Linked DNA regions of Homo sapiens. The protein of the gene in region 2 purifies or fractionates together with the protein of the main gene of each other region. This does not show direct contact. Each region holds a gene or a part of one and is shown on either strand. Other genes may lie near its edges.

Region 1 (3,915 bases), on a different chromosome or scaffold from region 2:
TGTGGAGCTCTGGATGGATTGTGAGTGATACAATGTGACTAAAGCACAGGGATGGGAGAGGAGGCTGTCACTGCCAAGGCTGGTGCAGGGTTCACACCATGCCCTTTTGACATCTGGGGCTGGGTAATTCTTGTCCTCACTTCTTCAGAAGGGTACATGAGAGTCTATCAGAAGCACCACTCTATTCTCCAAGCCTGAAAGATGAGGGTAAATTCACTACCAGTTTCCCAGCTAACATGCATTAACGAAACACCACAGGGCTGAGCTATAACAAACATGAACTGTTCACCATTGTGGAAGCAATGATTTAACCCAACTACTGAAGAAGCACCTCTGCACCTTAAAATGGGGACAACAGTGCACAATACGAGCAAAGCCACACTCATTGGAACTGAATGGGAGAAAGGTAAATCTGAAGTGAAATAACCAAATTTAAATATTTAAGAAATTCATGGCCGGGCACGGTGGCTCACACCTGTAATCCCACACTTTGGGAGGCCGAGGCAGGTGATCACCTGAGGTCAGCAGTTTGAGACCAGCCTGGCCAACATGGTGAAACCCCATCTCTACTAAAAATACAAAAATTAGCCGAGCACGGCAGCGGGCGCCTGTAATCCCAGCTACTCGGGAGGCTGAGGCAGGAGATCACTTGAACCCAGGAGGCGGAGGTTGCAGTGAGCCAAAATTGCGCCACTGCACTCCAGCTGGGCCACAAGAGTGAAACTCCATCTCAAAAAAAAAAAAAAAGAAATTCACTAAAAAATTACACAAAGCCTCTGTGGATACTGATAGAAGTTCATATCCTAAAGACAAATGGATCTTTATGAATAGGCAAAAAGACAACAGAAATAAGATACTCAGATGAACTGATCTACAAAATACTTATTTCGAATTTTATTAGAGTGGATCTTATTAGACTGGATCAGATTCCTTGGGCTTGACAACCTTTTAAGTGAGCCAGGAGTTCTAAAATTACTACTGAGCTATTTAGCCAACTATAAAGATCAGCCTCAAATAGCGAAAGAAGTCCTCACAGCTCTACTGCACTTCCATATATGAGCCCAAGAGATTTTGTTTTTTTTTCAGGAAGTATCCAACTAGTTTGTAACAATGGAAAAACAGAAAACATGTAGGGAGTAATGGATTTACAAAATAGCACAATGGACTAAAAATTACGGTTAGTGTAGAACAGGATTTCTCAACCTTGCCACAACTGACATTTTATGCTGGATAATTCTTTGCTGTGGAGGTTATAGTATGTTTAGCTACATTTCTGGTATCTACCCACTAAATGCCAGCATCACCCTCCTAGTTATGACAACCAAAAATGTCTCCAGACATTGTCAAGTCTCCTGGGGGAAAAGCTCCCCATTGAGAACCACTGATGTAGAAATAAATGCTCTCATGGGGCATATCTTAAATTTTAAAAAGAGTTTTCCCCGCCACATAGAGAAAAAACTTTTAAATAAAGTCTAAGTAACCACAAGTGCTTGAGGAGTCTGTTCTCAAATAAATGCTCCCAATGTAACAAGTGAATTATTCTATCCATTTATAAAGGAAAATTTGTGTCTATCCGCTGTTACTAAGGCTGAGACTGCCCTGGATGGTCTTTAAAGGAAGCCCAAAATTAGCCAGAACGACTATCCACACTTTAAACTGAATAAAGCATATTTGTGGCTGGGCGTGGTGGCTCATGCCTGTCAATCTAAGCACTTTGGGAGGCTGAGGCAGGTGCATCACCTGAGGTCAGGAGTTCAAGACCAGCATGGCCAACATGATGAAACCCTGTCTCTACTAAAAATACAAAAATTAGCCAGGCGTGGTAGTGGGCAACTGTAATCCCAGCTACTCAGGAGGCTGAGGCACAAGAATCACTTGAACCCGGGAAGTGGAGGTTGCTGTGAGCTAAGATCTTGCCACTGCACTCCAGCCACGGCGACAGAGTGAGACTCCATCTTAAAAAAATAAAAATAAATAAAGCCATGTTTGCAGGCGGGGTGGAAGGTGAGTTAGGGAAGGATAGACTGGAATACAAAAGCTAAAGAAAAAATATCAGCATAAACTTTATAGATATACTATTCTGGTACTATTTATTACATTTTGTTCCAATACATTCATTTATCAAATCATCTCAAACCAAATTAGTTAAGAAACTAAAGTTGAGCCATACATACTTATTCTGTAACCATACTATGCTAGAATGTTTAATGTCCCCCTAAAAAGTCATGTCCATCCAGAACCTCAGAATGTGACTTTTACTGGAAATAGGGTCTCTGCAAGTTATTAGTTAAGATAAGGTCATACTGGATTAGGTGGGCCCTACCTAATCCAGTGACTTGCGTCCTTAGGAAAACATAATACACTGACACAGAGACAACTACAGGGGAGAAGCATGAATGTGAGGCAGAGACTGGAGTGGTATATCTACAAGTGAAGGAATGCCAAGGATTGCTGGCAACCACCACAAGCTAGAGAGAGGCAAGGAGGGATCTTCTACAGCCTTCAGAGAGAACACGACCCTGCTGACAACTTGATTTTGGACTTCCAGCCTCTAGAATTTTGAATGACTTAAGTTTCTGCTGTTCTAAGCCACCTTGTTTGTGGTACTTTGTTATGGCAGTTCTAAGAAGTTAATATGGGCATTGAGTAAATGAAGGGTATTTTGGGCATATAATTCCAATAGAGTGCTAACATATTGCAGTAATATACTGGTTCAATAACTGAAAAATTGTTGTAGTGCCTGTAGACTAATTTTTGTAAAGTCTTATTTCAAAAATGCCATTTTGTTATAAAGCACAGCGGGATACTAGCTCTGCAAAAATTAACACAATAAATTGGTATCACATAATCTTAACCTCACGACTTTATTGCATTTTCTTCTTTAAATAGCACAAAGAAGATTCAGGATGTTATACATTCAGTCCTCACTTAACATCACTGATAGGTTCTTGGAAACTGCCACTTTAAGTGAAATGGTGTATAACAAAACTATTTTTTTCTCATTAACATTGTAACGCTGAACGAAATGAGGGCCTACTGTATGTCATTTCGCTTAAAAGTGCAATTTCCTCTTTTTAAAAAATTTTTTGCTGTTCAAGAGTTTGATAACATATAGGCCGGGCTCACACCTGTAATCCCAACACTTTGGGGGGCCGAGGCAGTTGGATCATTTGAGGTCAGGAGTTCAAGACCAGCTTGGGCAACATGGAAACCCTGTCGCTACTGAAAATACAAAAATTAGCCGGGCGTGGTGGTGCACGTCTGTAGTCCCAGCTACTCAGGAGGCTGAGGCACAAGAATCGCTTTAACCCAGGAGGCAGAGGTTGCAGTAAGTCGAGATCACGCCACTGCACTCAAGCCTGGGTGAAGGAGTGACACTGTCTCAAAAAATACATATACATATAATATTATTTATATATATATATTTATGTTATATATAATATATATTTATATATATTATATATTACATATATATTACATATAATATATAATACATATTACATATATATTACATATAATATATAATACATATTACATATATTATATTATATATATATTTGTATGAGAGAGAGAGAGATAACATTGCAATTTCAAAGAAGCCATCAATGATGTTAAGTGAAGGTTCACTATATTTGTTGTCAAAAGGTATGTCTATTCTTTTTTCTCAGGCAAAAGCAACAGTATTCTGAAAAGGAAGTCACTTAATGAGAAATCGAGACAATAAGCTGTAAGAAGCATAGACATTCCTTCCAATGATACCCATTTCTTCCAAAATTACCAGTCATTTCTTACCTATATTATCCTTTTCTTTGCAAGAAATTGAATAGCAGCAAATTTCTCTATCCTGAATAGCAGACAGATTCCTATGAGAAGAATTAAAAGGATAAGTCTGTGCTTAGAACAGCTGTCATACTT
Region 2 (3,915 bases):
GTCTGGGGGAAAAAAAAAAAAAAAAGCCAGTCAAACAATGCAGCTGCCAGAAGCTTCTTTTTTTTTTTTTTTTTTTTTTGAGATGGTGCCCAGGTTGGAGTGCGATGGCACAATCTCCATCTCAGCTCACTGCAATCTCCGCCTCCCGGGTTCAAGTAATTCTCTGAATTCTCTGGCGTCAGCCTCCCGAGTAGCTGGGATTACAGGCACATGCCACAATGCCTGGCTAATTTTTTTTTTAAGACAGAGTCGCACTCAGTCGCCCAGGCTGGAGTGTAGTGGCTCGATCTCGGCTCACTGCAAGCTCCGCCTCCCGGGTTCACGCCATTCTCCTGCCTCAGCCTCCTGAGTAGCTGGGACTACAGGTGCCCGCCACCACGCCCGGCTAATATTTTGTATTTTTAGTGGAGACGGGGTTTCACCGTGTTAGCCAGGATGGTCTCAATCTCCTGACCTCGTGATCCGCCCGCCTCGGCTTCCCAAAGTGCTGGGATTACAGGCGTGAGCCACCGCGCCCGGCCTATTTTTTTGTATTTTTAATAGAGACGGGATTCACCATGTTGGCCAGGCTGGTTTTGAAATCCTGACCTCAAGTGATCTGCCCGCGTTGGCCTCCCAAAGTGCTGGGATTACAGGTGTGAGCCACCATGCCCCGCACCAGAAGCTTTTTGTAGAGACTCAGGGACAGCATGTGCCCCTGACTCCAAAGCAGCCACTGCCGAAGGACAGAGGAGAAAGCAAAACCGAAATCGAAAGGGAACTCCTGGGGAGAACGCAGCCACTGTCACCCCAGGGCTACTTCCTCCCTGGATGGAATCTGTCATCCTCAAAACTTGATTTAATCCTTATTGGAGATCCCTGGCCTCCACCCCTGCCTCGCCAGACCTCTCCCTCTGCGGATGGGAACGTGGTGCAGACCCTCCATCCAGGAGGAGGCCTCGCCTCTGGTGAGGCAGCTGACACCACCCACCCCTCTCCTGCCTGGGGGACCCCCTCACTTCCCCTCCCACGCCTCCGAGATACCACCAGCATTTGTGTTCATATGACTGGGATCACCGTGGTGGGCGAACCCAGTACCTGAGGTGAGAGGCTGTGGAGAGGACCCTGGCTGGGGAATCGGGGCCACCCGCCCTGCTTTGGGGGTCCAAGTTCCATCCTGTGCCACCTCGGCAGGGCTCCTAACCCGAGCCGGCCGCCCCACCTGTTGGAGGCAGGTGACTCTTTGACAGTCACAGCAGCTGGCACTCATTGCATGCTCTCGTGTGCCAAGCTCCAAGGGCACTGCCCACGTCATCTCACTGCTCCCTGTGGCAACGCTCGGAGGTGAGTTCCACGACCTCCCCACTTCCAAGATGTGGAGATGGTAGGCACACGGGGTCCTGGCACTAGGCTGGGAGGTGACAGAGCTGGGGTCCCGTCCTGAGAGGCTCTACCATCTGCACCAAGCTCCCCCTCTCCCCATGGCTTGTGGGTCAGATCCAATGAGACGGTGAACATGGAAGTGCTCCAGGCCATGCTCCCTGAAAGCAGCTGCTGGCACTGTCATCCCTGCACTATGAGGACCATTCCCACAGGGAAGTCCAAGGCAGCATGAGCGCCAGGAATGATAGGGAGCCGTGAGGAGGGCCCAGGTTCCTGGGCGGACGCTGCAGACACTCACCCCTTGCCCTCACTCTGGTTCTCTTTGACTGGCTTCTTGCCGTGTTTCTCTTTGCTTCGTAAATAATCCTTCAGCTTCTCGGCCCGGTCTAGGTACTGCACGCACTTGGCTCGAATGCTCTCCTTGGCCTTGTCGCTGTGGGCCTCATCTGTGAAAGGGAACACAGAGGGGCCCCTGTGAGGCTCGTGCGCCACCCCCTCTCCTCCGCTCCCCTCTGGAGTGCGGCAGCCTGAGGACCCCTCGTGTGACTCACACTTGATAGCGTGGAGGAAGTACTCCACCGCATGCTGGTACAGCCGCAGCGCCTCCTCGTAGTTCTTGGCTTTGTCCTCCTCTGTGGCTTTCGTCACCAGATCAATGGCTTTCTGGAAAGGCAAAGCAAATGGCTCAGTGCTTCCTCGGAGAGGTGGAAAGTCCCTGGGGTCACAGGCATGGGGATGAAACGTGACGAGGGATGCCGCTGGGCCTGTGGATTTATTGCTTGCGGGCCATTTCATTGGCCTACTTTTTCAACATCGGCTAGAAAGGCCTTCAAAGAAGGCTTTGAAAACCAGCCGGCCATCTTCACAATAAGCTCAGACGGTTAAAAGCCACGCTCTGGATTTCAGCAAGTGGAAACCTGACCTAATATCTCAGGTCAGGGCTCAAGGGGCAAGTTCATGGGACTTTCTATTCTGCTGCCTCAAGGGAAAGAGAAACAGACCCGAGCTGAGAGCCTGGCAGAAGGGACACGCGGGAGCAAGTGACTGCTGGTTTGTTTAGCAAGGAGACCAGAAATTGCACCCGGCCTCAGGGCCAGAGAAGAGCCAGCCAGAAGGAAAGTCCTGCCCGGACTGCAAGTTTGCACAGGATACACTGAAAGGCCTCTCTCCTCCTCCTCCTGGCTCCATGCAGCTTGCTTCTCCAGGCTGCAGAGAGAAGACAGTTTCCTTCGCTGTCTAAAGTGACACCCTGGGAAGGGACGCTTACACACAATGCTCCACATACCAGTAGCTCCAGTAAGAAAAGTACTTGCTTGCTCCCTGCTGCCAACAGAAGAGAACTGTGTCCCTCTGGAACCTTCTAAGAGCTCTGTGAGAATGAGTGTCTTTGGGAATCTCATAAATCCTGTAGGCCAGTGCCTTAGGCTGAACTGAAAGCACCTACGTGGTTTTATTTATTATTATTATTTTTTGAGACAGAGTCTTACTCTATCATCTAGGCCGGAGTGCACTGGCGCGATCTCGGCTCACTGCAACCTCCACCTCCTGGGTTCAAGTGATAGATGCCCACCACTACATCCGGCTAATTTTTGTATTTTTAGTGCAGACAGAGTTTCACCATGTTGGCCAGGCTGGTCTCGAACTCCTGACATCAAGTGATCCACCCGCCTTGGCTTCCAAAGTGCTGGGATTACAGAAATGAGCCACCGCGACCGGTCAGTAAAGCACCTACATGGTTTTAAAGCCTGGTTTTAAAAACCGCAGCTTCACCAACGCCTGCACGAAGCATGACCAGAATTCTCCTCCTCAGATCCGGCACCAGTTACCAGGCAGGCAGTCCCACCGCAGACCCACGGTTCCAGGCACAGCAAACAATAAACCTCCTGACCGGCTCTTGGCAGGGCCGGGGCATTTGTTCAGCCCTCTCTTATCTGCAAGGAAGAAGTCTCCGAAAGAAACACACACAGACAGCTCGACAAAACAGACAGGCCAGGGGAGGCTGGGCCAGGCTGATGTGAAATGAACTCAGCGGATTGAAGAGATGAGAAGAGGGGTGAGTGCTGGCCATTATTTTCAAGCCTCTGCTCCCTCTACTACCTACAATGAATGGCTGGGAGCCCCAAACCTTCTTGGAAATGAGCTTAGGCACAGGCTGCCCTTGTCTGCCCTCTTCTGCATGATGTTCCTTCAGATGAGACAGGAAGGCAGCGCTCCTCTCCCTGGTGGCTTCTCGTCTCCAGAACACACACCCCCAGTACCTTGGACTTTTTCACTCTCTGTAGCTTCATGCTTGGGTCTATCCTTAGAACAATACTGAAGGTATTCTTTGTCCCATAAGGAGCAGCACTGACCCATCCCCTCCCTCCTTTTGGAAATTCTAGTAATACACCTAAGAGTGTGCTGGGGCTGGGCACGGTGGCTCATGCCTGTAATCCCAGCACTTTGGGACGCGGAGGCGGGCGGATCACCGGAGGTCAGGAGATTGAGACCATCCTGGCTAACACAGTGAAGCACCATCTCTACTAAAAATACAAAAAGTTAGCCGGGTGTGGT

What was found.
Region 1: the proteins of VPS4A (region 2) and ARL8B purify together in Homo sapiens (affinity purification with mass spectrometry; 2 studies listed by BioGRID and IntAct, with this or other methods). This does not show direct contact.

Annotation. Positions count from the first base shown.
Region 1 is NC_000003.12:5,174,292-5,178,206, reverse strand, and holds part of ARL8B (ADP-ribosylation factor-like protein 8B), read right to left. Parts: intron 3,864-3,915; coding exon 3,793-3,863; intron 1-3,792. UniProt on the Homo sapiens protein: Small GTPase which cycles between active GTP-bound and inactive GDP-bound states.
Region 2 is NC_000016.10:69,314,118-69,318,032, reverse strand, and holds part of VPS4A (vacuolar protein sorting-associated protein 4A), read right to left. Parts: intron 2,026-3,915; coding exon 1,914-2,025; intron 1,809-1,913; coding exon 1,661-1,808; intron 1-1,660. UniProt on the Homo sapiens protein: Involved in late steps of the endosomal multivesicular bodies (MVB) pathway. Recognizes membrane-associated ESCRT-III assemblies and catalyzes their disassembly, possibly in combination with membrane fission.